Linked DNA regions of Homo sapiens. The protein of the gene in region 3 interacts with the protein of the main gene of each other region in a pairwise test. Each region holds a gene or a part of one and is shown on either strand. Other genes may lie near its edges.

The links.
Region 1: the proteins of RAB3IP (region 3) and MB21D2 interact in binary tests that used the Homo sapiens proteins (3 or more experiments, as listed by UniProt).
Region 2: the proteins of RAB3IP (region 3) and FAM124A interact in binary tests that used the Homo sapiens proteins (3 or more experiments, as listed by UniProt).
Region 4: the proteins of RAB3IP (region 3) and CHCHD3 interact in binary tests that used the Homo sapiens proteins (3 or more experiments, as listed by UniProt).

The regions. Positions count from the first base shown.
Region 1 is NC_000003.12:192,907,519-192,915,335, forward strand, and holds part of MB21D2 (nucleotidyltransferase MB21D2), read right to left. Parts: intron 1-7,817. UniProt on the Homo sapiens protein: Probable nucleotidyltransferase that catalyzes the formation of cyclic dinucleotide second messenger in response to some unknown stimulus.
Region 2 is NC_000013.11:51,246,129-51,253,945, reverse strand, and holds part of FAM124A (protein FAM124A), read right to left. Parts: intron 2,479-7,817; coding exon 1,745-2,478; coding exon of another isoform or gene 1,673-1,744; exon of another isoform or gene 332-1,672; intron 1-331.
Region 3 is NC_000012.12:69,741,428-69,749,244, forward strand, and holds part of RAB3IP (rab-3A-interacting protein isoform alpha 1), read left to right. Parts: intron 1-7,817. UniProt on the Homo sapiens protein: Guanine nucleotide exchange factor (GEF) which may activate RAB8A and RAB8B. Promotes the exchange of GDP to GTP, converting inactive GDP-bound Rab proteins into their active GTP-bound form.
Region 4 is NC_000007.14:133,078,827-133,087,155, reverse strand, and holds the start of CHCHD3 (MICOS complex subunit MIC19), read left to right. Parts: upstream 1-5,065; 5' UTR 5,066-5,218; coding exon 5,219-5,299; intron 5,300-8,329. UniProt on the Homo sapiens protein: Component of the MICOS complex, a large protein complex of the mitochondrial inner membrane that plays crucial roles in the maintenance of crista junctions, inner membrane architecture, and formation of contact sites to the outer membrane.

The DNA.
Region 1 (7,817 bases), on a different chromosome or scaffold from region 3:
TTGATCTCCAACCGATTCTGTGACCTACGAATCAGTCACATCACCTCCCAGAGTCTCAGTACTCCCATCTAGAAATGGGGATTAATACTTCCTATACAACCTTTCTCAAAGGCCTGACCTAAGGATAATACCATACCAAATGTGAATATTTATTGTCATCTATAAAGCATTGTGCAAAGATAAATTAGTATTGATCGCAAATAACAGTAGTTTCTAATAATAAAGAATTCCTACGACTTGCGTTCCAGATTAACCATCCAAGTGGAGGCACTTGGAGGATGACTGATAAGCACACTAAACGCCATAATGAGAAAGATAACGTGTGCCCACTGTGCATTCTGAAAAGCCCTGAGTATGGGCATGCCAGAGGTCCGGAAGTACCCTCACATGCCTGTGAAGAAACACCGGGGTCCACAAGGAAGGGAACATCCCTATGAGTCATGAGTTGCAGTTTGCTGTTCCCAGTCAACAAGCTACAGCAATCACTATGGACATTTCTTATATTGCCCTAGGATAGGTCTTAAGGAATGTAGAAAAACTTGCCCTACATCCCTCTGCCACATAAGGAGATAAGATCAAAATTTTCTGGACTCCAGAAAATGATAAAGTATAACTCAATGGATTTTTAAAAATCATAAAGAGACAAGGTTAGAAAGTGCTAATTTCTCAGAGACTGCAATAAAAAGCTTCACTGGGAAGAGCTCTTTTAAAGAGTGACTCAAGTCACATCACACTTAGTGAGCACCTACTATGTGCATGACCCCCTGGGTGCTGCAAAGATAAATAAGCCAGGTATTCTTTAAAGCATGGGAAAGAACAGGCTAAGGGCCACAAAAGGGACCAGGTATTAGGAGGAAACACAGGAAAGGTAAATTTTCTTCTTTTTTTTTTTTTTTTTGAGACAGAGTCTCCCTCTGTCGCCCAGGCTGGAGTACAGTGACGCGATCTAGGCTCACTGCAAGCTCCGCCTCCTGGGTTCACGCCATTCTCCTGCCTCAGCCTCCCAAGTAGCTGAGACTACAGCAGCTGGGATGACAGACGCCCACCACCACGCCCAGCTAATGTTTCGTATTTTTTTTTTAGTAGAGACGAGGTTTCACCGTGTTGGCCAGGATGGTCTCGATCTCCTGACCTCGTGATCCGCCCTCCTCGGCCTCCCAAAGTGCTGGGATTACAGGCATGAGCCACCACGCCGGGCCAAATTTTCTTCTTCTCAAAGACATATAGGAAGGCTTCATGAGTCAAGTGGCATTTGAGCTGGGAGAAAAAAATAAAGCGGACATAAGGTGTCAGAAGGTCATCTGTAGAACCTGGGACATTTAATTGTTTCTGTGACATGGATCCTCTCGACAGACTGTAGAAGCCTATAGATCCCTGCAGAGAATAGCATATTTAAGTGAATATGATAACATCACACAGGATTTCCAAGAAAATCAGTATTAAAATACAAAATGCGGCCGGGCACGGTGGCTCACGCCTGTAATCCCAGCACTTTGGGAGGCCAAGGCAGGCAGATCACGAGGTCGGGAGATCGAGACCATCCTGGCCAACACAGTGAAACCCAGTCTCTACTAAAAATACAAAAAAATTAGCCAAGCATGGTGGCGGGCGCCTGTAGTCCCAGCTACTCGGGAGGCTGAGGCAGGAGAATGGTGTGAACCCGGGAGGCGGAGCTTGCAGTGAGCCGAGATCGCACCACTGCACTCCAGCCTGGGTGACAGAGCGAGACTCTGTCTCAAAAAAAAAAAATAAAAAATAAAAAAATAATAATAAATGCCTTTTTAAAGTAAATTTGTGATAGAGTACCCTATGTGATTATTAGTGCCTTAAATAATAAAATCTAGCAGCAAGTCTAATATCCACCATAATTTCAAAGCAGCAGTAAACATTTTTTGAGATATCTGCAACAACTGTAATGTGAAATAAAAATGCCTGGGATTTCTATTGGCAACAAAAACATACGAACCACTAATAACACTATGGTTTCCCATCTATATTTATAATGAAAGAAAATGCTATATTTAAGTTAGAGGTTAATACAAATAAAGATGTCCTTTTTTCCCCACTCAAGTTCACAGGTTCCATGCTGTTTCCATGGACCCAGGTTAGGGAACTCTGATGAAGAGCCTCGGCCAGACACGGTGGCTCACGCCTGTAATCCCAGCACTTTGGAAGGCCGAGGTGGGTGCATCACTCGAGGTCAGGAGTTCAAGACCAGCCTGGCCAACATGGCGAAACCCCATCTCTACTAAAAATACAAAAAATTAGCTAGGCATGGTGGCACGCACCTGTAATCCCAGCTACTCCAGAGGCTGAGGCAGGAGAATCACTGGAACCCGGGAAGCGGAGGTTGCAGTGAGCCAAGATTGAGATCGGCCACTGCTCTCCAGCCTGAGTGACAGAGCAAGACTCTGTCTCAAAAAAAAAAAAAAAAAAAAAAAAAAAGAAAGAGAGAGAGAGAGAGAAAAGAGCCTAAGAGCCTAAGCAAAGAAAGAAAGTGAGAAATTGGGGTGTATGTTACATGACAATGTAGAACATGCAGAGACAGGAGGCGGCATGGAAAGGTAGGTAAAATCCTCAGAAGATGGCAAATAAGGTAGGTAAAATCCTCGGAGGTCACCAATGTGAGAATTCATTACTCCCAATTATTAAATAATAGAATAGAGGTGGGGCGTGGTAGCTCATGCCTGTAATCCCAACACTTTGGGAGGCCAAGGTGGGAGAATCACTTGAGCCCAAGAGTTCAAGACCAGCCTGGGCAACAAGACCACCATCTCTACAAAAAAAAAAAAAAAAAAAAAATTTAAAAATTAACTAGGCATGGCTGTGCTCTCCTGTGGTCCCAGGTACTTGGGATGCTGAGGTAGGAGGATCGCTTGAGCCCAAGAGGTCAAGGCTACAGTGAGCCGTGATGGCATCATTGCACTCCAGCCTGGGCAACAGAGTGAGACCTGTCATTCATACATATATACATAAATAACAGAATGTGCTCTAAGTTCTAGAAATGCATCTTCTTTGGAATAAAAAGAGATGAATGAAAGAAGCTAGGAAAACATCATTCTACAAGTTTCAACTTATAGCTCCTCTTTAAAATGTAGAGGACAGCATATTGATAAATTTACTCCTAATAAAAGAGCATGGATCCCATACCATCCCTGTTATGTAAATGTACACATATGTCTGGGTATAAGCATATGTATAACACAGATGTTTAGAAGAAATGTGCATCAAAATATTAATGGTGATTCAAGTTTAGGAGTGATTTTACTTTTTCCTTTGCATTTTCTATCATTGGAAAACGGGCAGAATTAGGCCCAACATAGGTTAGGAGACTTAGGGTAAAACACATACCACATAGTACAAAACAGAGCTGGTACAAGAACTCAGAAATTCCCTTTTCTCTTACTATATAAAAACTTTCAGATTCAGAATTGAATGCACCTGAACACATGAAGTACATATAATGATTAAGCCCAACTTATATATTTAGAAACTGAGGCTTAAAGTCTGAGTGACTTGCCCAACGTCACACAGCAAATGTTAATAACTGGAGATTCAGAGGTAAAATCTGGGTCTCTTGGTCCTGAGTGCAGAATATTGTCCTTGTTAAAAGCCAGGGTTTTGTATTCATCCTGACCCAGGTTAAGTCCCACCTATGCCACTCACTTGCTGGTAAACTTGGATGAATTCCTATATTTTTCTAATTCTAGGGTTCACCACAGTTTTTTTTTTTTAACCTCAAAGTGTAATGGTGATGATTAAATGATACAGTAAAGTCCTATTAAAACCTGTGACATAGTAAACACCCTTGTCTCACTCACTATGCCTTTTTGTCTCTGTCCCAGGTGGAAGAACTCCACTATTACTTTCCAGGAGCAGACAGACATTATCTGCTCATTAGGCTCAGCAGCTTGGTTCTAGTCTCAAAAGTCAACTGGGATCATGCTCACTGTGCCTAGAACAGAGAATGCAGAACATCAAGCCTAACACAGGACAGGATGTTGACATGCTGAGCAGCTTGTTGGGGGATCTCTAGGGAATTCGGATTCAATAGGTCTGAATGGGACCAGAGATTTTGAATTGTTAGAATCTAATATTTCTGTGAATTAAAAAGGGGCTCAGCCTAACTGTGAGCAATGTATTATCCAATGAGTGGCATGACAAGGAATGACAGGAAGACCCAGGACTGTCGACAGTTCTAGGCCTCTTCTCTCAAGGACGAAGGGCAGCCACTGCCCAGAACCATGGAGGGGGAATTGAAACCAATCCAAACTAGCACAAAAATGAATGTTTGGAGAGATCCCCTGCCCTGGATACATAATGTTCTCAGAGATAGAACAAACTTCCGAGATGATCCTGTGCACTCTACAGATGCAGCACATAGTGAATACAACTCTCGGGAACTTTCCAAGCACATGGAGGCCCATAAAACACCAACGCACCATAAATTTCCATGGTAAATCCTGCTGGGGGAATTCATTAACAGAAAAGTAGCAATCAAACACTGGAAAGGTAGGGCTTCAAAATTACCCACTCTGGAGATGTAGAAAGTGCCTAAAAATATGGTAGGTCCAGGAGCACCACACCAAGCATTTACATCTTTGAAATGGCCACATGGCACTTATTGGCCTGAAAGGAGAAACAGCCAGCAAAATATCCTGCTAGAGTTGGTGGGCAAAGGAAACAGGGGAGGGGTCCCTGAAGGCCCTTATGAATTTCTCAAAGTTTTTGTTCACCATTTTATCTTCAGAACCCTGCACGCTGATTGGCAAACACTATTACATTCATTAAGTATTTGTCAAATGCGTGAAAAAAACAGAGGGAGAGAAAGAGGGACAGAGACAGGAAGACAAAAAGAAATTATCTCAGGCGGGGCATGGTGGCTTACGCCTGTAATCCCAGCACTTTGGGAGGCCGAGGTGGGTGGATCACCTGAGGTCAGGAGTTCTAGACCAGCCTTGGCCAACAACATGGTGAAACCCCATCTCTACTAAAAATACAAAAATTGGCCAGGTGTGGTAGCGGGCGCCTGTAATCCCAGCTACTCGGGAGGCTGAGGCAGGAGAATCACTTGAACCCAGGAGGCAGAGGTTGCAGTGAGCCAAGATCATGCCACTGCACTCCAGCCTGGGCAACAAGGGCAAAACTGTATCTCAAAAAAAAAAGAAAAAAGAAAAAAAGAAATTATCTTTGCTCCTACAGACTAGGCAGGCTACTGAGTATAGTATGTCTCACCCAAAAGTGATGGAAACTGATTGCTACTACAGTAAAAGGAACATGAGCTTCTGAGTCAGGAATAACTGGATTCAGTCTCCAACTCTGAATGATCTTGGCCTAAGTTCTTGACTTCTTTCTTTGAGCCTCACCATTTCATCTTTAAAAAGGGTAACAACACCTATTTCACTTCCAAAATAGGCATGATACTTATGCTTACAAAGTTGTGGAAAAAAGATTACATGAGCTAATGGACTTAGGCAAAGTAGCTAGCACAATGGTCAGCACATGGTATGAGCCAAAATCCTCCTGGGCTACCCTAATTGTACTGCATAGTTCTTTCAGATGTCAAGCTGCAGAAATAATTCCAATTTAAGTTCACTGGATCTTCTAAGAAAGTATATTTTTATCCCAGCACTCTGGGAGGTCAAAGCAGGAGGATTGCTTGAACTCAGGGGTGTGAGACCAGCCTGGGCAACATGGCGAAACCCTGTCTCTACCAAAAATACAAAAAACTAGCCAGGCGTGGTGTTACACGCCTGCACTCCTAGCTACTTGGGAGGCTGGGGTGGGAGGATCACTTGGAGCCCAGGAAGTAGAGGTTGCAGTGAGCTGAGACTGTACCACTGCACTCTAGCCTAGGTGACAGAGCGAGACCCTGTCTCAAATAAATAAATAAACAAACATTTATTTAAATAATAAACTCACGTATATATTCTTTTTTAGTTAGCAAAGTAATTTCACATTCTGACATAACAGTTCTGAAAAACAATGCTTACTGTTATCCATGTTTAATAAATGAAAAAACTGGCCAGGCATGGTGGCTCATGCCTGTAATACCAGCACTTTGGGAGGCCAAGCCAGAAGGATCACTTGAGGCCAGGATTTTGAGACCAGCCTGGGCAACATAGTGAGACTCCATCTACACAAAAATTTTAAAAAATAAAAAATTAGCTGGGCACGGTGGTACACATCTCTAGTCCTAGCCACTAGGGAGGCTGAGACAGGAAGATAGCTTACGCCTAGGACTTTGAGGCTGCGGTGAGCCATGATCATACTATTGCACTCCAGGCTGGGCAACGGAGCAAGATCCTGTCTCAAAAAAAGAGAGAGAAAATACTAAGACCACAAAGCCAACAAGAGGCAGACTGGGAATGAAACTATAGATTTTAACATTTTATTATAATTACTATGATTTTCTCAATCAAAAATTCAAATAGGAGATCTTATTATAGAATACTTGAACTCAGACTGTTCCAGAAATCTACTTATATTACGCTAAAACTTATAGCTAAAATCGAAACAAAATCCTGAAAGAAGTGATTTTTTAAAACAAAGCCTTTCCTCTGGATTTTATGCATCTATTCTTAATAGTCTCAAGTAGGAGAAGAGGAACATGTTTTAGAGTAAGGCTGACCTGAGTTTCAGTAGCATCTCTACCATCTATTAGCTTTGTGACCCTGGATATCCACTTTCTTCACCCCACTAAATTTCAATATCTTCATCTATGTAATGGGAAAGCAATACCTCCTCAAAAGTCTATGTGAAGTTCCTGGCCCTGAGAAGATGATTAGTAAATGATTAACTACCGTAAAAATCATGCCATGGTACCGACCACTTGGTCTGTAGGTTAGGTGACGGCTTGTTTCTTTCCTGCCTTCTCCAGCATCTGCATACCCCCTTTTCTGCATCTGTTCAATGGGGACACAAACCAGTCTCTATCGAACCTCACCAGGGAATGAAGATAACAAAAGAGCTGGCAGAGACATTATGCTAATACCAAATATTATTAAAACATTAATGAACTCTGGCAATTTCCCTGAATTTTGATAAATGGTGTTTATTATGCACTGCCAGCCTTTCGCACAGTCTGGGCTCTCAAATATTAACTAGATAATAACACCAATCATTCTCCTAAAAGACCAAGGTACAGAGGAATAAGAAGTGAATCTAGACAATTGCAGCTAACACCTGCCTCCAAAAAAAAATCAGAATCTCTGTACAAACAGAGAGCATCAGGACAGACCCCAGAGACCACAGTGACCACCAGCAAGCTCAGATCAACCCCACAGCCTGTGCAGAACCCTACTTTGATAAGACAGTGGAGTGTCTTGGTGTTGACAGGTCATTGATTATGACAGCTGTCTACCACCTCCTTGCTCTTCAGTGTAAAATTCCTCCAAACTAGACAAAATGAAAAGGATCTGTGAAGCTGGAGGGGCTTCAGACTTGGCTAACAATCTTACACAAAAAGAGAGTAACATGCCTCACCCCTGCCAACTGCCTGAAACATGAGGCAGTATTTTTCTCAGCTCCACTAAAGAGGCTTGCACCCAATTCGTGGTTGGCCACTTCATTCTGTGTGAGGGGATAATATCTGTAAGCTGCTAACAATCCCCAGGTGCAGCTCAGATACAGAACAAAGCCAAGAGGACTGGCCACCCTCCACCCCCCCGCCCTGAAATGAGGGCCTGGTACCACCCAAGTAACACCTTAACAAGCTAGGGGTCATTAAGAGACTTCATTTGCATAGTCATCAAAGAACCAAAGCTATGGCAAGTGAAACAAAGTGTATAAAAAAAATGATTTTGTTCTTTAAGCCA
Region 2 (7,817 bases), on a different chromosome or scaffold from region 3:
GAGGTAATGCATCCTTTCTGCCCACATTAATTTAATTCCTCAACATATTACTATTTGAACAAGGGCCTGCATGCCTGAGTCCCAAGATACAAATCTTTTTTCTACTCTTTCACACTCTGTTGTTCTAACTTCAAAAGCCTGCACCTGTATAGAGTTTATAGCCATTTAAATATGTGGATCTTCCTTGAAATATTCTTTCCATGGTGCCTTTGAGCAGAGCCCAGGCCAAGCTTTCACACTGCATTCTGTTATTTATCTTATTAGAAGGATCAGGAGAAAAAAGTGCTCTAATTACTGCAAAAAGGAAGAAGTCACCTCAGAAACAGTCACATTCTTTTTGGTCTTTTAGTATAAACAATATCCTTTGCATTTCATTAACTTTTACTTGGTGCAACTGTATTATATTTTGCATAAAGATGTGGCATTCTTCAAACACAGAGACAATTTTTCTCACATTTCAAAAGGGATTATAGAGCAAATGCTAGCATATTGAATAATAAAACATTACTTAGTTCCTTATCTGCACAGTTCAAAAGGAAGTTTCAAAATTATCTAGTTCCTATAAATAGTAAGTATCTCAAGGTGACCTTTCTGACGAGAAATGAGGCCTGGCTGTAGTCTGAACCAGTTATCTGACATGTGCCAAATTCTGACTTCATTTCATGATATGTGGATTATAGTTCTGGTGCTTAAAGCCAAAACCAACAAAAACGATGAAACTTTACCTGTGATTCAAGTAACCACAATCTTTGCCTCTTAAGGCAATGTCCCCCAATTCACTATCAACTTTCTCTTTTCGGGTAGCCAAGTGTGAAAATTGAGACGTCAGAGGTAGAGGCTTTTCAGAAAAACAAGGCCCTATACTCCTGGAACTAATTTACTTGTAAAATCAAGAAAGCCTGGGTCTGGAAAGCATTTCTCAGGTAGGACCAGATGTAGGATGTTCTGTAATATACATGCTGAATTTTGAATTGAGTATAACTAATTATCTCTAATGAGTCTGGGACAACCCCTGGAAGGATGAGAGGAGAAAGGGAGCTGATGATGAAGCTAAAGAGTTTACCATGGAAGGACTAGGGCAGCCTACTTAAAATGAATTCCTTCACCCCTTCCAAGCTTAGTGAAACCAGAAGCTCCCAAGGCATCACTTACTCCTTAAAATGTTTAACGGGACATCCTTTTCCAAGTGATCACAGGATTTCAACAACCTGCTGCCCAGCAGTAGAAGGATGCAAGAGTAGAAGGTGGGGGAGGCACCTGAAGGAAGAGAACAGCTATCTCCTCTATGAACATCAATATATATTTTAAAATTTCCAGATAGATGGGCTTTCCTGAAGTTCCTTTGTGGGAGGGAAGAATCCAGTGGTAAAAACTCTCTAAGTACATGGGCATAGATTCAGGAATCTTTAATAGCAAATTCCCTAGCTTATAAGCTCATTTGAAATCCCCAGGAGTCATGGGTGTTTAGTGGATGCCCAATAGGGGAGGACAGAAGGGGCAGCTGGAAGAATTGGGAACATGTTTGCTGAAAGTGAAATGAAGAGAACCAATGGGAAGAGTCTTTCTTGCCCCCTCTTTTGTTGGGATCCTGTATGGCCACTTTGACTTCGACTAGGAGCTGGGCAGAGGGTCACTGATCTCTCCTTCCTTGATCATTGCTCTGTGACTGGTACTATAGTGTTTGAGGCAAAGCTAACTGGTTTCTCAGGTCCCCTAAACAGACAGACAGGCGTCCCCCCAGTACCTGTAGGAGGATCTTGTTCCCATCATGGTCCTCCGTCTGCCAGCGCCCCTCGCTGATGGGGCTGCAAGGGTTGGGCAGGAGAGGCACGAGCTCGCCTATGTCCCTCACTCGGAACTCCAGCACGGAGGAGTCGGTGGGCACCGGGCACTGGTCACAGGGCAGTCTTTTCAGGGAGAACTGGATGTCCACATCCAGGTTGGAAAAAATAGGGAAGATGCAGAAGTCCGCTTTCTTCTGGCTGGGGCTCCTCCGGAGAATCAGCTGGTAGAACCTGAGGCTGTCAGCATAGTTGTCGTAGCGACAGTAGACGGTGAAGCGCACGATTTCCTTGCCGTAGTGCACGGGCCGGATGGCCCAAAGCGGCGTCCCAGGGGCCAGCGTGAAGAAGTCCTGGCTGCAGGGCAGGTAGGGCAGGAACCGGCCGTGCACCTGCTCGGTGTGGTGGTGGCGCCAGGGCGGCTGCTGCAGTGTGCGGTGCAGCTGCAGGATCTGCTCTTCGCCGTACTCCTCCTGCAGGAACAGCACCACAGCCAGCGCTGGCTGAGCGCCCTTGGGGGGCTTCCGCCGCCGCCGGGACGCCCGCCTCTCGGACACCCGGAACAGCGGGAGGTCGGGGTGGATCCACGCCAGGACGTTGTCGATGGCCTCCTGCAGGGGCTGGGACTCCCCTGGGTCTGCGATTATGTGGATGCTGACCAGGAAAGGGTCCTGCGCCTCTTCAACGGAAAGCTCACCTGGGGGCACGCAAAAAACGAATGGATGAATGAATACAATTATGATTATTTCATTAAAGTGTCCAGTGATGACGTGTACAGGCTTGACAGGAAGAGAAGTCAAATTCTAACTGAACTGACTCCATGACCTGTGATTTTCTGATCCCAAGTTTACCTATAAAAACTACTATGCCAGCACCTTAGCAGCCAAAGAGGAAAGGGCTGTTGCTACGTGAATAGTTTCTAAGCTGGACAGGGTGAGGAGAACCTTGGTCCTGTATTTCATCAGGTTGGTTGGTATAGGGAACATTTGACTTTATATTTACGTATCAGACAAATAGAAAGTCAAGTCTAGTGACTTGGAAGGAACAACAGGCCCATTAGAAAAGATGGCATAGCATCTTGTGGACACCATTTAGTATTTCCTGAAATAGCTGCAGGGCCTTGCCCCATACATGTTCCCTACACAAACGCACTCCTCTGGTTTGCTTATTTCATTTGTTTATTTTGTTAACACACACTCATGGGCTCCTTCCTACCTGCCTCACAGGGAGTGAGGCACAAGGCGAATGATGGAGGACAAGAGAGACCTGTGCTTGCCCCCTGGGGCTTACTCTATAGACAGGTCATGCCCTGGCTGTTGATGAGTCCTGCCCACAGTGTCCCCTATTGTGGGGTCCTGGCCAAGATCATGTTGCTGCTGGAGACACAGGGAAGGATGACCCCCAGAGCCAAGCACAGTGTTCTTGCTGTTGGAGCTTACTGGGGCTGAGGTTAGGGTGGAAGGAAAGCAGGGTGAGACCATGACTGCCCATGAAAGGCTACCTTTTGTGTCCCTTGCTGGGCCACATCCACTCAGAAGCCCACACAACTTGAATGGGTCGGTTACCCTCCCTGTGATCTCTGGCGGAACACCTGAAACTGTTGAATTCCAAGCATGAAGTTGACTGTTTAACTTGGCAACAGTTTCCCATGGGGTGACAGTTTTTTGGCCACACTTGGCATATTTCTAAATCATATAACTATACCTGATAAAAGGCTTGCTCTTTTAAAAGATGGTTCTATTTGCATTTATAGAAGTTTTAGGTCTCATTTAAGGGAATTGAGACATCTTTAGGCCAATTGTGATTTAGGGGGCTAGATTCACCTAGAATCTAGATCTGCCTTTACAAAACACATGCCTCACAGTGTCCACTAGGGGTGTCAGGCATACAGTGATCATGTGGTCAATTGTGTTCTATCAATGTGGTGTGCTTTTCAGAATCATAACCTTGATCAAGTCACAGGATGAAAATTTTTTTATGGTAGGTAGACATTCCAAGTGGGCTTACAAGTCCATTTCACCATGTACAGCTGCAATAACATGGTTTTAATTTAATCAGATCAAAACCCGTCTGAATTTTCTTCCCAACCCTATTAAGTGTCTCACTTGAAAACAGTCCAGCTTGCTGTCTTCTCTCTTATTCATGCATTCATTTGCACATCTGTTAAGCAATCAGTTTGTACCAGGCACTGGGGACACAAAGAAGCTGGCACTAATTATGTATGCCCAAGCACTATGGGAGTACATTTACGTATACTCTTGCATGATATGCTCCCTGAGAACTGTGCAGTGCACAACCTGCACAACCATAGGCAGCAGCCCTCTGAAGACCCATAAGCCCATAAGATGAGAACTTTGTGACTGAGTGGGGAAACACAAACATCAAAAAGTAAAATTAAATCTGATATATGCCTAAAAGGAATACAACGGAATAGTAACTTGGGGTGGGGGCTAGATTCTAAAGTCACTGTGAAGCAAAGGTTATCTATAGACACGATTAACACTGAAAGTCTCCTAAATTTCCAATAAAGTACTAACTTGTAACAAGACAAGATGGCCAGATAGATGTTTCTTTAGTTGAACACCACATAAAATAACCATTTTGCTGCAGGGCCATGTATAAGAGAATAGTCTGTTTCTTTAAACACTGAACCCTTACTCATCAAACCCTGCCCTTCACTCTACAAGAGGCTTTTGGGAACCTGAGAGGCTTCTGGAAGTTAAGGATGACTAAGGTAAGAGCGGAGTCAAGTTTCAGCTTTCCACATTCATGGAGTAGAATGGCAAGTGGAATCCTTTAAATTGTCTTCCCTCTTTTTCCTTCCTGCTGGCTGAGCATGTATTCTCAAATTTGTATGAGTTAAATATGAGCATAGAGCAATTCCAACTTACTACATATGACAAAAGAAGGAGGGCTCTGCAGAAGGCTTCCTGGAGGAGGCACCAAATGAACTGGGTCTTGAAGGGTAAAGGCAGAACACATCCTCTTGCTCATGATGCCCTCAAATGCTGAGGAGATTAGGAAGTGTTTACGAAGGTATAGAACTGTGCAAAAAACAAGCACATTTGGAAGGGGGCCGTGGGGAATTCTGGGACATGGCAACAGATGCAGCTGGAAAAATGGATTAGAACCAAGCTGTATGGGGCCTCAGCTCAATTCAGTAGTTGATAAGGGGCAAAGGAAGGTTTTATGAAGGGGTATCAGGATCAAGTTGGGGGAAAGTTGGCTATAGGCAAAATAAGGAGTTAGAAGACTAGTGAAGAGTCCAGACAGGAGATGACAAGGACTTGGCAGAGTAGGAGATTATGTTAGTGGCTTCAGTTCCTTATCCTATTATGTATCCTTACTTTCTGCCATGTGACTGTGTAGCTCCTCCCACTAAATGGGTGGCGTATTTCCCCACCCTTTGATTTAGGATGAGACTATATGCCTAGCTTTGGGCAGGAGAAAGAGACAGCAGTGGCATGTGTTTTGGCTTGCCTCCCTGTGCTCCCAACATTTCCATAAGAACATACTTGGGGGAGCCCACCGGTCCCAGTAAGGGGATGAGACACATGGAACAGACCCACTCTAGCTGAGCCTGCCCTAGATCAGCCAAACTTCACACCCAAAGACGCAGGGCAAGAGCCACTCAGGTGAGCATGGTCTAGATCAGCTGATCCAAGACAAATGGGAAATAATAATGATGGTTGTTTCAAGCCTGAAACTGAGACTGGAGGTGGCTGTTACCCAGCAGTACTTACAGATCCAGGACAGTCAGTCAAGTGGGTAAATAGAAGAGGCATGGATTCACAGGCTATAAAGATGCAAATGGCAGGCCAGGAAGCCCACAGGCCTGGTGGGTGGGGTGTAGGAAAAGTTGGAGAGGAGTATATACCCTGATGTTTCCAGCTTGAACAAGTGATCTGATGTGATGTTTAACTGAAATAGGAAATAGAGGAAGAAGGGCAGATTTGTGGGAAAAGACAGAAAGTTCCACCTTGACCACTTGGCTTGAGATGCCCAAATGACTTCCAGGAGAGATGTCCTTTGGCAACTGGATCTTTGTGTTGCTTAGGTGAAGGGCTGAATTTAAGGATGGGCCAGTTACTTTCAGATCATATTCTCATTTGTATGCAGTTATCTGATAAGCGTGTGCCCCCATATAGACCTGAATCATGAAAATTCATCATGATGGCTAGGAACACAATCAGAATTCAGAGATAATTCTGGCCCTTTTCTTTGCTTGCCCTTTCTGCCTGCCTGGCTTCTTTCGGTTTGGTTGAACATTCATGACACGATCGGCAGAAGTACAGTTGACGCAAAAGTAGTAAAGCTGCGATGAAATTTTCTGCCAGTGAGTAACTCCAGTAAAAGTAGGAGAAAATACCACATCATCTAAATGGATTTCACTTTTCTCTGGTGCCTTGAACTCCCAACAGTGGAGACATGCGACTTTGCTAAGCATCAGTGAATGCTCCATGTAAATGGAAAAGGACAGAAAGGCTTTGAACGAGGGGTCAAGAATTTTACCTGAAAAAAATGACAGATGATTTTAATGAGGGGGGAAAAACACCATGCGAAGTAAAGGAAAGTCTGGGAAAAGAAGCTGCCTGGGCCACCAGGAAGTCCCTTCAAGGTCCTAATCCCACCCCCAGGTGTGCATGTGGCCAGGTACACAGGGTGACATGTTAGCTAACATGGGTGCTTTCTCCATGTTCTACATGTATGAACTCATTTAATCCTTACAACCACCATAGAAAGGGGAGGTGCTATGATTGTCCCCATTTTAGAAACCAGGAAATTGAGGCACAGGAGGTGAAGTAGCCTGCCAAGGTCACACAGAGTATGAGCACTAGCTCCAGTATCCGAGTTCCGTGTGCACCATCAGCCCAGGCTCTGCAGAGAAGTGTGCTCGCCTCTCCACTGTATCCCTTTCACAGCAGAGTGGCCAGCTGCCATTCTCCATCCATGTGTGGCCACGGCAGCTCCCGCCTGGCCCCTCTGCACGGCTCTCCCACCTCATTCTGACTGGCTTCATTCCCAGCCACCAGCCAACAGCTTCATTTCTTGGACACCCACTTACATTTCTTTCCTCTGGCCCCAGGTCTTGGAGGAAGAATAAGCTAGAAACTGCCCTCCCTGTTGGCACATGCCCAGGTCTTCACATCTCAGCAGTGCCCTCGAGGGCAACTCAAACAGGCCAGCACCACAGGTGGGTGCACAAGTGAAAGGAATGCATAACAGTCACCCAAGAAAGCCTATAGCATGGCGTGAGAGGCTTGGGTGTGAAGAGGCCCGGGAGAAGGTGGCTTCTGAGACTCTCCAGTGGAGCTGTCAGGGCGCTCAGCCCTGTGCCATCTCTATCAGTTACACAAAGGTTTCCCTGAGAGCAGTAACAAAGACCATGCTGAAGTCTGCATGGATGAGTGAATGTTTACAGCTCTGCAGAAGGGCGAAATGCCCGGCCTCAGAGCAGGGGGGTGAGCTGAAAGGCATTCCACCAAGTACCAGCTCGCCTGGCAGTTTGGGAGGCAGCCAAGAGCAGGCGAGCCAGGATGACGAAGACCCGACCCCCAGAGCCCCCTCTGCACTGCCTGAACCAGGGACATGTAAGTGGCTAAGACCCTGCCCCAGAAGAGCTAAGGAGAATGAGCAGTGGCATTAGCATGCTCTGGCCATCACTAGCACGTACCCGCTGCACATGACCTGAAAACACAAGCAAAGAACACAGAACGCAGCTTCAAGCTGTCATCAGGTGTTAGAGTTACACCCCCCCCCACCCCACGAGAAACATGCCTCTGTGGAGCTGGATAGGAAACCAAGCATTTGAGGGGAAGGACAGAAAATGTGAATAATTAATTGCCACGAAAAGTCTCTATGCCTCCCTGGAGAAACACAGACGACATGACTGTGGGATGTGCTCTGCCTTTATCATATCTATTACATGTCTTCTCAAAGGACCTAGCGAGCACCTGTTGAATTATGGTAAAACACAGACCAGAACCAAACAGAGCAGTGGCACAGACTGCCCCAAGGCTGGTGGGAGGATGGGAG
Region 3 (7,817 bases):
CTTCTATTAAAGAGCTTTGTAACTATAAGGAGGCACACAGATGACAAGTGTTACCATTTGTATTTCTGGTTTAAAAATATCCAAGTTTTCTGAAGACGGTGATACCAGCATTGCTACTACAGTTACTTTTAAGTCTAGTGCTTATCAAGCGAAGTCCTGGTGTAAGCTTTATACTCATTTACTCTCAGAGTGAGCGAGGAGATAATACTTTATCCCTATTTTGTAGTTGAGAAAATTGAGACCCTGAGACCTTATGTAGTTTGCTCAACGTCACATAGTTAATTAAGTGACAGGTCTAGATTAGATGTCAGACAGTTTGTCTTCCATGTCTGTGCTCTTAACCACTACACTCTGTCATTTCTTCATGTATAAGTGGTAATGCTAAAGAATTGTTTGCTCATAATCACTACATTATCACTTCTTTATGTGTAGCTTATAATGCTGAAGAACTTTGTAATTTAGCTTTTATGAGATACGTAATGTTAATGTAATATGTAATTCTCATTGTGTCACCAGAGATTTTTTTAAATCAAATACTCATTGAGCATCTACTCTGCAAGTCACAGTAGGGGTTAAAGGAAACTGTTCTTAAGGAATATGGAAGGTAGGGCCTTATAATCATTCCCATATCTTTTATAAGTTCTTCAAAATGTAGAACGCACTTTACATATTTTAATGAATGTCAACTAAGACAAAGTGCTAGGATAGTTGAGTAGTGGAGAGGAAGGACAGATGGATAGTGGGTAGAGATATTTGTGCATTGAGGTAATGAGGGAAAGCTTTGAAGATATTCCAAGGGAGTACGCTTTTTCACACTAAACTTTTTTCCGATATAATTCTGATTAAGATGCAGTTCATCAAAGGATAGTAAATTGGTTACTACGCATTTGATATCCTAAAAACAAAATATCTGAGCTTTTGTAAACTGCTTTCTAGCTTGTTTCTCCTTTTTTATGCTACTATCCTTAGTTGTACCAGATGGTACTCTTTTTAAAAATTTTATGCTTTTATAATACTGAGTACCTCTTTTTTGGTATTTATGAACTTTGATATTTGTGTTGTATTTGTAATTGTTTCTAGGGCCCTAGAAACATGTTTATTGGCAAGGTGGTCTCTTCCTCTAGTCTACAAGTGCTTCGAGAGTAGGGCTTACCTCATTTTATAGCTTTAACATCGGGCCAGGTAAGTACTGTGCTGTGTTTGGTGATGGATGATCAGTTGAAGAATGTTAGGATGTTTTGAAGCTGCTCTAGCAGTAGAAATTGAAATGAACATTGAGAAATGAAGGGACAAAGGAAGGAAGAGGAAGATATTTATACAACTGGGAGCATTAACTTGCTATCTCTATTTTCCCTTCTGCTTTCCTTTTCAACTTACCACTAAATGAGGTAGTTTTATAAGCTTACATCGTACATAGTCATGGTTAGAGAAAAGTGGAAAAAGTAATCTGATTTATCTTAGAATATAGGGCAACACGAAATTAGATAACTATAGCCGTAAACTGATATTACTTAGAGGAAAAAGAATGAAAATTATTCAAATAGTTCAAGTTCATGAAAGATTTGATGCTTGTCGTTAACAGTAGGATTGTAAATATAATCATAATGGCAGTTGATGAAATTCCTCTGAGGGGTATGGATACATACACAAATAAGTATATGAATTGACAGCTTAGTATGAAGAAACTATTCAAGAATGTGAGAATGCCCTATGAGCATAAAGGAGCATATAGATGATAGCTTAGAACCACTTAAATAAGTGAATTGTAATTTGATATGCCCAGATAAAAGTAATAGTATTGAATATTTGTTTGGGAGCATCTGGTTGTCAGATAAGGATAAAGTATAAAAGAAAAACCAAAATAAGTTTGAAAAAACAATAAGCAAATTTGTATCAATTCCCTGTGGGGAAAAGAATCATATTTGAACTACATGCCTCATAAAGACTAGTTTTCCCTTTCTTTCCTTTTACCTAAGATAAATAAAGATACCTTCTGATTTGTAAGACAAACCCCTCAGTATGCTTTTGCTATTTCCCCCATTACATTTTTTTCTTTCTTAGATCTTTATAAAATCATACATTTATGTTGTGCTTTACAATGTATACATTTTTACATTGATATGCCATTTGATTTTCTCAAATGTAGGCAGGGGAGATAATATCACTACCATTATAGATGTCAAAACTGAACCTTAGAGAGATTAAATGACTTGCGTCAGTTCACACAGCTTGTCAGTGACAGAATCTGAACTAGAAGGAAGGTTTTCTGAAGTTAGTCTGTTAAAATGCTCAGGTTTTCTCAAACTTCAATTTCTCCAGTTTTGATACTCTCGCAAAGTATTTACTGTTTCATTTCTATCTTTTTCAGCAAAAATGTAGCCTGAATAACTGTCTCCACTCTTTACCGCTTTGCTATTCATTCCTTCTCTAAAGACTCTTGTTTATTTATTTAGTCAGTGCGTATTTCAGCACCTGTTGAATGTTTAGTTGGCATATATTCTTAAGAGAATATGTAAAATGAAGCTTCCATTATTGAGAAAAAGAAATTTGGAAAATGATTTTTTTAAAAAATTATACTTTTAAGTTCTGGGATACATGTGCAGAATGTGCAGGTTTGTTACATAGGTATACACGTGCCATGGTGGTTTGCTGCACCGGTCAACCCATCATCTACCTTAGGTATTTCTCCTAATGCTATCCCTCCCCTAGCCCGCCACTCCCCCACAGGCCCTGGTGTGTGATATTCCCCTCCCTGTGTCCGTGTGTTCTCATTGTTCATCTCCCACTTATGAGTGAGAACATGCGGTGTTCTGTTAATTTAAATAAATATTTAATTACAAATAAATATTTGTAATTAAATATTAGCTCATTGTATTATTACAAATAATTATTTGTAATTAAATATAATATTAGCTCATAAGTTCAGAACATTTTCTGAAAACTGTCAACATAACACACTGCAATAACTAACATCTCTACACATGTCAGGTTGTACATTGAAGTGTTGTGGAATTAGGCCGGGCATGGTGGCTCACACCTGTAGTCCCAGCACTTGGGAGGTTGAGGCAGACAGTTACTTGAGGTCAGGAGTTCGAGACAAGCCTGGTCAACATGGCAAAACCCCATCTCTACTAAAAATACAAAAAATTAGCTGGGTGTGGTGGCAGGCGCCTGTAATCCCAGCTATTCAGGAGACAGATGTTGCAGTGAGCCGAGATTGTGCCACTGCACTCCAGCCTGGGCGACAGAGCGAGACTGCATCTCAAAAAAAAAAAAAAAAAAGTATTGTGGAATTAGTGGGAATTCATTTGTGATCTATTATAATAAAAATGGGAAAATTGTGTAGCCTGATTGACCATTTGAGTAATTTTGCCCTTGGGCTATTAATTACATTTGCATTTATAAACATAGAATGCTTCTTAAAAGATAAATGTGATTTTTTTTGTCATAACTAAAATGCTAGTTTGGGAAGCCAACTTTAAAATTATTATGAAAGCTAATGAAAAAATGATTTTATATATATACTTGTTTTGTTTTTTCCTCCTTTATTATACAGTATTTGAATAAATTTTGAACTTTCCTTTTTATTTTGAGAGCACTATAAATTATGGAGAGTTTCAAATAAGGTAAGTAGACACAATAGTATAATGAACCTAAAAGTTTCCATCATGTAGCCCAGTAACTATCAACAGTGATCAGTCCTCATCCATCCACTTCTCCCACTTCTATATTATTTTGAAACAAATTGCAAGTCCTGTGTAATTTCACCTGTAGGTATTTCAGTATTTCCCAAAGATAAGAGCAGTTAACTGCAGTACTTTTACAAACTTTGTTCTTTATTTATTTTTTCATTTTAATCTACATTTCCTGCTTTTATTATTACAAATTTTCAAAAATTAACACTAATTCCTTGGTATAAAATATCTACACTTTTTAAAAAAATACACAGGAATATGGGTACTATAGTAAATTCAAGTTTCTGTTTATTTTGATTTATGTGCTGTTTTTTTTTTTCCAAGTCCTGTAAGGAGCTGAATAAGTATTAAATTCTGGCATAGTAACAAAACAGAGGAGGAAATGATAACAAAAATAATATAGGGGAAAATAATAGAACACAAAGCAATAGCAAATGCTCATTTCAATAGCAGTGCTTTAGAGAAACTTCAGTTTTGTCTTTGTGAAAGTAAGAGAAGGGTTCAGAGATTAAACATTATTATTCTGTTTGGATTGTTCACTTCTTTTTTTTTAAACTTTAAGTTCTGGGATACCATGTGCAGAACATGCAGGTTTGTTACATAGGTATACACGTGCCATGGTGGTTTACTGCACCCAGGATTGTTCACTTCTTAGAGATCCTTTGCTGTGCTTTAACCTTTATTCCCATCTCCCTACTCCCTATCCATTTCAGCTTCTAAGTGTATCTCAGATGTAGTGGAGTTAGGTGTTAGAGTCAGACACACCAGAGTTTGAATACTAGCTCTGTTACTTTTTGTGTATTTGACAAAATTAATCTCTCTCAGCCTCTTTTTTTTATATATCTGTAAAGTAGGGATAAGAACCATTTCAAATGAATGCTCTGAAGATTAACTGGAATAATTGTGTGTTTGTGAATAAATATAAATGAAGCTGTTCTGAATGTTTTCCATACGTATATATGCCTCCATCCCCTCATTCCCAGTGCATGACCTTGGCATTAGATCAGACAGTAATCGTTTAACCAGCCTCTAGTCTCCAGTGAAGTTCTCATTGCCTTGGGAGTCATTTTTAAATGACTACATTACAATACATCTATACTTTCTAAAATGTAGATCTCACCATCTCTTCAGGATAAACTTTAAGCAACATTTTCTCTTTTAAAGAAGGCTTTTAATGGTCTGTCACAGTCTGCCTCTCCAGCCTGCTTTTCTGTTACTGTCTCCTTTGTTAGTTTTGTTAGTGCCAGACCCTTATTCCCTGACTGTCCTATCCTATTCCCCTTGCCCATCTACTGGACTTGTATTCAGCACTGAAAATCTGACTTATATTTTACTTCTCTTTGAGACATTCTCCTCTTCCCTCTTCCCTCCCCACAACCCTCAGAATAATCATGCCGTGGCTCGTAGAGGCTGTGTGCCATCTCTTTGGTCCATTTGTATCTGTATTCTTAGCACTTAGTATCAGGATTTGCCCGGAGGTGTTGAAGCTGGCAATCATCCTTCCATTCCAACAAGAATAAATATAATTTATCACATATATGTATGAAATAAATGTATTTAATATGTATAATAAATGTTGAAGGTTTTTAAAGAAGTGATGGAATTTGTAACTAATTCATGGAATTTATAACAGTTCAATTCATTATATGCTATTGAAGTAGCAGTCTCATTTTTAATCTCAGAAACTGTTTCTTTCATAATTCATGTTAAATTAAGAAGTCATTTGGGAATTTAAAAAGCATCTGGACTTTCCTCCCTGCCCCCCTTCCACAACTGTCTGTGAATAAATTGAAAGAGGAAAATAGTGCTTACATAATCTTAAACCTTTTCTTTTGACATGTCTTGGAATATTTAATTTCTATTATTGTGATAATACAAGTAAAACAAAATTATACTACAGGATTTATAGATGTTTACTTTTTTTGAGGAAAATCACTCAAAACAATAAGCTTTTAAACCCAAACTCAACAATCATTGCTTTTTGTTCTTAGTGATAGTGCTTGTGCTGATACAATATGATCAAAATATTTGGCCAGTATTAGGAAATGTCCTAGAGATGATTATAATAGTAAGAGCCAGTCTTAATTGGTAAGTGCCAGATATGGTGCTAAGCTCTTTAATTCTCATGACTACCTTAGGAGATAGGTACAGTTTTCTCCCCTTGCCCTTTCGTGTGTGTGTGTGTGTGTGTGTGTGTGTGTGTGTGTGTGAGAGAGAGAGAGAGAGAGGATCTTTCTCTGTTGCTCAGGCTGGAGTGCAGTGGCACAATCACAGTTCGCTATAGCCTCAACCTTCCTGGCTCAGGAGTAGCTGGGACCACAGGCGTATGCCACCACACTCTGCTAATTTTTAAATTTTTTGTAGAGATGGGGTCTCGCTATGTTGCTTTTGGTTGTTGCTTAAACATCTTGGGCACAAGCAACCGTCCTGTCTTGGCCTTCCAAAGTTCTGAGATTACAAGAACCACTGTGCCTGACCTGTCATCTCCATTTTTAGATGAGAAATTGAGACTTAGATCTTCAGGTCACTTTATTAGTAACTGGTGAAGCCAAGATTTGAGACTGATTCCAGAGTACAAGCTATTTCATGAGATAGTGAATACTGGTTAAGTTACCCTGTTGGCTTTTCTTCTAGTAGACAAGTACATTCCTTTATCTACCAGGATTATTTGATCCAATTCTACACTGAAATAGATGAAGATATTTGGGCTCAGATAAGTTACCTGCCCAGGTTCATAGATAGATCTCAGAGCTTGATCAGGAGCCTTAGCTTTCTTCTTCAGGTACTGATGCTTCTACTCTGCTGTGTTGCCATATTACCTCCTTTGTTGGAAATGATTTACTTTCTGAGTGTAGTGCTTTGAGGAATTTTAGTAAACATAGAATTCAAATTATTTAATTTTCACATATATTAAATTGATATGAAAAAAGATAAAAATCACAGCTTTAGTTTTTTTTTTTTTTTCTAAAATTAAAATTCTATGTTTCCCATTTGTCAAGGTAAGTCCAAATTAGGGGAATGTGCTTTTTGTGGAAAAATGGATTTTATTTTTTCTTTTGGACTACTGATATAAATCAAGTTGCTAGATTTCATTTAAAATATGTATATGCATTTTATTCATGTTCTTCAGATGTTTCATTGAAAATATTTTCCCATTAATTCTGATTTCTTGAGTTGTCCTAGGGATGGCTTTTGTTTTCAAGAAACATTTTAAAAATTCACTTTAATTAGAAAAAGTAAATTTCATAAGTTATTAGGATCTTTCTAGGCATTTATTAAATGAGTTAATATGTATGAAATTCTTAGCACCACTATCTGACAACATAGTTAACCTTCAGTAAAGATTGGCTGTTGTTTTTGCTGTGATAGTACTGATTTCGAGAAAGAAAAATTAACAGGAAATGCATATTAGGGATCAGAAGCAAATTGTTTTGATCAACTTTTTCTTGTGGTCTGCAGTCTGCTTTATTACCTGGAGCTCAGTAATAAGGCCAGCCAAGTTGTGTTGGTGATTCACCCATAAGAATTTAATGTGATCATCTTTTTTACATATTGGTCATGATCCTTGACAAGTTTAATTTACTAATTGGGATAATCAGTTGAAATTAGTTCTTTTTGAATCACTCATTGCTTAATGCGAAAGATACTACTGCTTAAAAATAGTAGTTTATTTTACTCTTATAAAGACGTATGTGAAATAAATCTTAAAGCTTCTATGTATTTAAAGGGCAAAAGATTTTCAGACCAGTGAGATTGGCAGCTCATTACCAGCTAAATTACATTTTATGGAAATTTTATGTGCTTGAAAAAGGGATTAAATTTAATCTCAAAATAATCTCCTTTTCAGAAGTGACTTGAATTTAGACAGTATTTAAATGTATCCCCCAGAAGGGAAACATTGTAGGTTAGAAGCACTGCTCAGAGGCATTGTCCTAAGTGCTATATAACAGGGGTCCCCAGTTCCTGGGCTGTGGACCTAAAGTGGTCTGTGGCCTGTTAAGAATTGGGCCACACAGCAGGAGGTAAGTGGCAGAAGGTAAGTGGCGGACAAGCGAGCATTCCCACTTGAGCTCCACCTCCTGTCAGATCAGCAAGCTGCATTAGATTCTCATAGGAGTGCGA
Region 4 (8,329 bases), on a different chromosome or scaffold from region 3:
TCTTGCTCTGTTGCCCAGGCTGGAGAGCAGGGGCGCATTTATAGCTCACGGTGGCCTCCAAGTCCTGGGTTCAAGTGATCTTCCCACGTCAGCTTCCAGAATAAATAGGACTATATGTGCATACCACTATGCCTAGCTAATACTTTTAACGGTGTTATTAATATGTAATTTACATGTCATAAAGTTCATCCATTTGAAGTGTACATTTCAATAAATTTCAGCATACTTATAGCATTGTGCAACCATCACAATCTAATTTTAGGCATTTTTATCACTCCTCCAAAAGAAACTATGTACCAATTAGAAGTTAAGAAACTATGTAACAATTAGAAGTTACTCTACATCTCACCTCCTCCTACCCTCTCCAAGCCTAATCTTCTTTTGTTTTCCATGGACTTGCCTATTCTGAACATTTCAACCGCCTTTTGTGTCTGGCTTCTTTCACTTGGCATAATGTCTTTGAGGTTCATCCATATTGTAGTATATATCAGTACTTTCTTCCTTTTTATTCCCCATTAATATTCCATTTTCTGGATATATTACATTTTGTTTTTCCATTCATCAATTAATGAACATTTGAATTGTTTTTCATACTATTATAAGTGGAATTGCTCTCCTCATTTCATTTTTGGCTTGTTAATTGCCAGTGTATAGAAATACAGTTTTTGTGTGTGTGTGTGTGATGGAGTCTCACTCTCCCTCCGGGGCTGGAGTGCAGTGACGCGATCTCCGCTCACTGCAACCTCCGCCCGCCATGTTCAAGCGATTTTCCTGCCTCAGCCTTCTGAGTAGCTGGGATTACAGGTGCCCACCACCACGCCTGGCTAATTCTTGTATTTTTAGTAGAGGCGGGGTTTCACTATGTTGGCCAGGCTGGTCTCAAACTCCTGACCTCAGGTGATCTGCCCGACTTGGCCTCCCAAAGTGCTGAGATTACAGGTGTGAGCCACAGCGCCCGGCTACAATTGATTTTTATATGTTGATCTTGTATCCTGCAAACTTGCTGAGTTTTTTTATTAGTTCTAATTAGTTTTGCAGTGGATTCTGTAAGATTTTTCTATTTGTAAGATCATGTTATCTTCGAATAGAGGTAGTTTTACTTCTTCCTTTCCAGTCTGGATGCCTTTTATTTTTCTTGCAGTTTCTTATTCCACCTATCTTTAGTTTGCCATGATTCTTCATGGTACAGACTCAGTGTTATAACTTCTCTTCTTGCTATCTTTTTGTATGCTCTGAATTTTCAAGTTTAAATTTGAGAAAGTGAATACAGAGATACAGAAAACGGAGAAAAACATGGAGAATCTGAGTAGCTGAAGTATTAGCTATTATTTTTCTTAGGGCAAAGCTTTGCATTCTAGCTCATAGGTGTCTGGCTAGTAAATGCTGCCTTTGGATTAGATGACTATTAATAAGCTGTAGCCAGAAAGAAAGGGAGGCCACAAGTTCTGGGTAGCTCAAGAAGGGATTGTATAGGCATGACTGGCCTAGAAATTGACATGGATAGAACAGTATTGTTAGAGAAGGCATTTTGTTTTAAAGAATACATTGAATTTTTTTTAAACTCAGAAGGCATCTTTGTAATGTTGGTTAAAATGCATTAGGATGTCTAAAACATTTTTGGATTGTCTGTTTGATTAGACCACTTATATGTGTTTGAATCATAAAACATGAAGGCACTCCACTACCTTCTCATGCTTGGCATTCATCATCTTTAATATATTTGGTTGAAAGAACTCTACTTAATATTCTAACTGGAGATATATATATATATATTTAAGACAACTAGTGGTTTCTTCATCTCTCTATTCTCTCCAAGGAACGCTTTCTTTGTACTTGGTTATTTTCGTAAGTGCTTGTTGAGCATGTGTGTTATATAGAACCTCCGATATGCCCTATATATTGGGGTAATAAGTGAGAGTGTGTTTGTGGAGGGGAGGGTCCCCAAAAAATGAAAGTCATAATTCCTTGGAGCTTTAGTTCCCAGTAGAAGAAAGAGTTAGGCTGGGCATGGTGGCTCATGCCTGTAATCCCAGCACTTTGGGAGGCTAAGGCAGAAAGGTTGCTTGAGCTCAGGAGTTTGAGACCAGCCTGGGCAGCATAGTGAGACCACAGCTAGGTGTGGTGGCACACACCTGTAGTCACAGCTACTGGGGAGGCTGAACTGGGAGGGATTGCTTGAACCTGGGAGGTTGGGGCTGCAGTGAGTCGTGATTGGGCCACTGCATTCTAGCCTAGGCAACAAAGCAAGACCCTCTCTCTCTCAAAAAAAAAAAAAGAAAAAAGAAGGAAACTTGAGAACAAGTACAAAGTAGCACGTAGTCTCATAACTGCAAAGTAACATAGTACAATTTTAAAAGAATATAATGATGAGATGTAATCAACACTCTGCTACTGACCAGGGATATAGAGATTAAAAAGACATAGTTTCTGCTCTAAAGATTCATACAGTAAGGTTGGGAGCGGTGGCTCACGCCTATAATCCCAGCACTTTGGGAGGCTGAGGTGGGAGGATCATGAGGTCAGGAGATGGAGACCATCCTGGCCAACATGGTGAAACCCCATCTCTACTAAAAATACAAAAAAATTAGCTGGGTGTGGTGACACGCACCTGTAGTCCCAGCTACTCCGGAGGCTGAGGCAGGAGAATTGCTTGAACCTGGGAGGCGGAGGTTGCAGTGAGCCAAGATTGCGCCACTGAACTCCAGCCTGGCGACAGAGCGAGACTCTGTCTCAGAAAAATAAAAGATACATACAGTAATAGATCAGCACATAATTGGATTCATACAGTAATAGATCAGCACATAATTGAAGCTCAAAAATGCGACTGCATTGTAGATGCCTTTGGCATAAGAGAATGCCATGGTGTGTTGTGGCCTGCTGCTTTTAATGTTGAGAGGGATTAATTGAAGAATAGTACCATCATTAACCTAATTTCTATTGAGAATCATCTGCCTCTGTAAAACTAAGGTCATATGGCTAAACTTATGTGTAACAGTGTGTTTAGCAAAAAAGAAATATGTAGATGAATAACCTAATAACTATGTACTGGTCTCGTAGAGGTGAAATGTTGAACTATTAATAGGAACTTTCCACAATAGATCATCTCAACTTTTCTGATGTAGTTTTAATTCCTCCACTAATTTATGCCATCTTTGGCAATCACTTAACTTTTCTCTGCCTAACCCTATTATGGCCTAACTTATGTAACTGAACTAGTAGTAGAAGGAGACACAAAAGTGGAAAGTAAATTCTCTACATACTTGGTGCAAATAATTTATTCTATGAAGAAATGTATTTTCTCATAGACAGGTTTGAAAACCATAGTACTTAAAATTTTACTTTACAAAAAGAAAAAAATACAGATACTAGTTCATGAGACAAGAGACATGGACCAAACACACGTTTACGTTTTTTATTTTTTTATTTTATGGCTACTACTAAAATGCCACCATTCATGTACTGCATAACAGTGTTTCAGTCAAAGAAGAACCTCATTTCTGGCAGTGGAATCATAAGATTATAATGGAGCTGGAAAATTCCTGTCTCCTAGTATTTACTATACTATGCTTTTTATCTTTAGGTTAAAGTGCATTCTTTCTACCTATATAAAAAAGTTAACTGTAAAACAGCCTCAGGCAGGTCCTTCAGGAGGTGTTACAGAAGGTGCTGTTATCATAGGAGATAGCTCCATACGTGTTATTGCCTCTGAAGACCTTTCAGTGGGACAAGATGTGAAGGTGGAAGACAGTGATATTGATGATCCTGACCCCGTGTAGGTCTAGGCTAATGTGTGTGTGTTTGTCTTAATTTTTAACAAAAATGTTTAAAAAGTAAAAAGTAAATAATTTCAAAAATAGAAAAAGCTTATAGACTAAGTATATAAAGAAAGAAATATTTTTGTACAGCTATATAGTGTGTTTGTGTTTTAAGCTAAGTGTTATTAAAGAGTCAAAAAGTCACAAAAAAAGAAGTTTATAAGTTTAAAAAGTTACAGTAAGCTAAGGTCAATTTATTCTTGAAGAATGAAAATATATGAAAATAAATTTAGTGTTGCCTAAGTGCACAGTGTTGATAAAAGGTACAGTACTGCATAGTTGCGTCCCAGGCCTTCACATTCAACTCCCCACTCACTCACTGACTCACTCAGGGCAACTTCCAGTCCTGTAAGCTCCATTCATGGTAAGTGCCCTATAGAAGCATACCATTTTTTATCTTTGATTTTTTTTTTAATGGAATGCTTCAGAAATTCATGTGTCAACCTTGCTCAGGGGCTGTGCTAATCTCTGTATTGTTCAAATTGTCCTAGATGTGTTGCCAAAGCAATCACTTTTACACTGTTTTTGCTGTAGCTTTTCTATGTTTACATATATTTGTACACACAAATACCACTGTGTTACAATTGCCTACAGTATTTAGTACAGTGACATGCTGTACATCTTTGCAGCCTGGGAGCAATAGGTTACACCAAGTAGCCCAGGTGTGTAGTAGGCTACACCATCTGGGTTTGTGTAAGTACACTCTATGATGTTTGCACAACCACAGATATCACAGGGTCACCTAACGAGGCATTTCTCAGAAGTAGTCTTCATTAAGCTACCCTACGACTGTAATGAAACGCTAAGTTTTGAGCCAGGAATTTGTGTATAGAACACTAGGAATGGCTTCATTAGTATCATGCATCTTTTTCATTAAACTGTGAGTCCCTTTGAGAGAAAGATTGTGTCTCTGAACTTAGTGGCCTAAATTTCTAGAATTATGTCTTCAAAAAGTTGCCCAGTTAGGCGTCTCTGGGGAGTCAAAACCACAACTCCCAGAATGCCGTGCTCCCTTAGCGCGCTCAGGCGCGGGGAGAGAATGTCCCATCACCCACCGCGCCAGATCGAGACCACAGTTCCCACTACACCCAGGGACTCCGCGGAAAGCTATCAAACACCACCTGTTGCCATAGCATCCGGGTCGGGTGAACCAATCCGGGCGCCCTCGCCGAACAGAGGCGGGCAGTTCGCATCGCCGACCAACCTGAGGCGTTTTTGTTGTGGCGCGTGACCGGAGGAGGCGGGAGCTCAGGACCGGCGCCTTCTCCTTGCTTCTGGGGGTCGTGGCCTTGCTCCCGCTGTGCGGGAAAAGAATCCAGGCCCTTCCACGCGCGTGTGGGTGCGGGGGCCCCGAAGTGCTCGTGGTTCCCCGCTAGGTCTCCGCTGGGGCAGGAACCGGAATCATGGGTGGGACCACCAGCACCCGCCGGGTCACCTTCGAGGCGGACGAGAATGAGAACATCACCGTGGTGAAGGGCATCCGGGTGAGTGCCCGTGGACGGGCGGAGGGCCAGTGGTTGGACTCGGACCCCAAGGCCCCATCTTCTCCGGACCCGCTCAGCCTGGGTTTCTCCCGTCCTGGACCCTAGCGTATTAAGGCCAGAAGCCCAGGTGTCTGGGAAGAAGCCTAGAGTTTCAAGACGTGGGACATTCATTCAGAGATAGTTCCTGGTTGTGCCAAGTGCTAGGCACTGCTGGGGCGGGCGGGGAATGCCAGGTTGAATTATACCCTGCAAGGGCTCACAGTCTACTCGTAACTGTACTGCTCCCTTGTTGCAGGACCGTATTTGAAACCCATACCTCGGTGTACTTGTCTGTGAAATGGTTTTCCTGGGTTCAGGACCCAAACCCTGCTTTTCCACTGTGCACACCCTGTCTCCCAGGGTGAATTGGCATTTTAAGGATTGCCTTTGCTTTGTGTCATTTAGTGCTCTCCCTCTGATAACACCCCCTCCTCCCACCCACTCCCCACACCCTGTCATCCTCCCTCCCAGCCCCACAGTCTTTTCTGACCTGCCTGGGGCGGCTTCTGGCTTCTCCCTGCTTCACTTTCACTTGATATCTCCTCTTTCCCAGGCGCCTCCTCTGTGACCTGCTGCGCCGAAGTTTTGGATTAGGCCCAGTTGCTTCAGGACTAGTGTCTGCCAGTCTGATAGGGGCTGAGATGGGTTTGCAGTTTTTCATACCAGTAGAAGTAATGTAGTCATTTCTGACCAACGTTGTAGAGCACTTTTTTTTTAATGCCCTTTGCATGCACCTGATACATAAACTGAAAACCTGGTTTTTCTCTAGGGTGTCAGTATACCAGCACTAACTTCATTAACACACTCTCCGCTGCGCCTGAATTTGGAGCCTCACATTTTTGGACGTATGATGCCTGAACCTAGTAAATAAAGCAATTTTGACTTCAGAAAGTTTTATAATAATTTATATATTTTTTTCTGTTATCAACCAGCGTAAATAAATTACATTTGTAAATTATTTTTAACAGTTGTTACCAGGAAATAAAACTTCTTAAATATTTAAAATGTTTAAAAACTTTTTCTTCTGAAACTGTTACCTTGAGAATAATTTATTAAACTTTTCTTCATAGAAACTCAGACTGTCGAACTCAGTTTTTGGTCTGTGACCAGTATTTCTTTATATCATGCTAATTAATGGTAGTACTACATTTTGTAATAAAATATCTGAGGCTGTATTCTTTGAGTTATTGTGTTTCAGTTAGTACTCTTTGGAGTAAAAAATTACTGTAAACTTTAAGTTTTATGCAGAGATTTTAAGACTCTTGCCATTAGGCTTTCAGTACGCAACTCAGAGTGAAAAATAATTAAAAGACAAAGCAAAATAAGTTTTGAGTGAGAAGACATTGGTTAGAAAAAAATGTATAAATCCATATTCTCGTGCTTTAGTACAGACACAGTGCTAACAGCAAACAAAATCGAAAGAGAATGTGGCCACAGCACAGAGATTCATATCAAGTATTAGATAAGGTTGGATGGAATAACTGTGACAGCAGGGATAGGTATTCTATTAAAATGGAAAAATTGTCTAAAAAACCTTTTTAAGATTTTTGTTTTTTAAAAAGAAATGTCCTTTGGTCATATAACTTGACAGCATTCCTCATTTTTTTCCTTTCTTATATAGTACATTTTACCTGTATTGCTAACAGTTCAAGCATGATCATTTTTACCTCTATGCTTTTCTTCAGAATATACCCTTCACCTGGAATGCCCTTGCGCTGGTCTCCATTGCTTCAAATCCTCCTTTTACATGAATGTTTTGCAATCTCTCTGAGCTTCAGTTTTCCCATCTGCAAAATAATGCAACTGAGTACATCCCTCAGATCTCTAATATTTTCCAGTCCTGAAATCCTGTGAGTCTGGTGGCACTGTAAGTTTCTTGTAGCCATACTTAGCCCATTGCAGTTTCCTCTAGAAGTGACATCCATTGAAGTATTGAGTACACAGAGGTCATTCTGATTTCTTTGAGCTCATGATCAAAAGAGTATCAACTTGAAATTAAACAGACCTCAGTTTAAATCTCAGGTTAGATATTTATTACTTAACCTGATTGCCTGTGTGATTTTTGTCTGGGTCTTTTGTAGATGTTTTTCAGTTGATCTTAGTATTTTTCTTGGCTTGAATTAAGCAGACATCAGTTTAAATCGCAGGTTAGTTATTTATTAGCCTGTGGCCTTTGACAATTGACTTCTTTTATTTCCTTATCCATAAACGGTAATACCATCACTTCCCTTGATTGGTTATTGTAAGAAGATGAGGTAAGGTATGTAAAGCACCTGGCACATTGTAGATTTTCATTAAAAAGGCAGCCATTATTATGATAGGGTTCCTTTCACATGCAAAGTTTTAAGATTCTTTGAAAGTGCTGTGCTGTGTAGTGGAAAGAGCATGTGCCTTGGAACCAAGCAGACCTGGGTTGGATTCTATCTCTGCCTCTCACTAGCGGTGTCGCTCTGGACAAGTCACTTTTCATTGTGTTTCCGTATTTAGTATTTCTGGACAAAGCCTACTTTGAGAATTTGACATAATGTATATCTAGCACAGTGTCTTGTACTTTGACAGTGTTTGCACTTGTGAATAATAGCTGTTATTAGAGCTGTTCAAAAGAATGGATATGTGAACTTAAGTGAACTTCAAATTTTAATAAAAATAAGAGCATGTTGTGCCCCAACAGGTGTACCTAAAAGGGTATGGACTGGGAAATGGGAGTCTTACATTCTGCCCTAATTGAGGGTGTTTTTTTGTCTAGGTCTGTTGTAGATGGTTTTTATTTCTTTATATTTTTCTTGGCTTTAAATAGTCACTTTGTTCCCTTCTGAGACATGGGGAAGGATAAGAAACCGCATTCTCAGTATGTCCATAAGCCATTGTTTTTAGCTTAGTTTGTTAGAACATGGTGCCGATGAGGCACCAAACTTCAGTTTTGAACTGCAGTTAGGTTAGTTCAGCTTGGCTGAAGAAAACGTTCCAACTTTGACCAGTTGTCTAGCATTT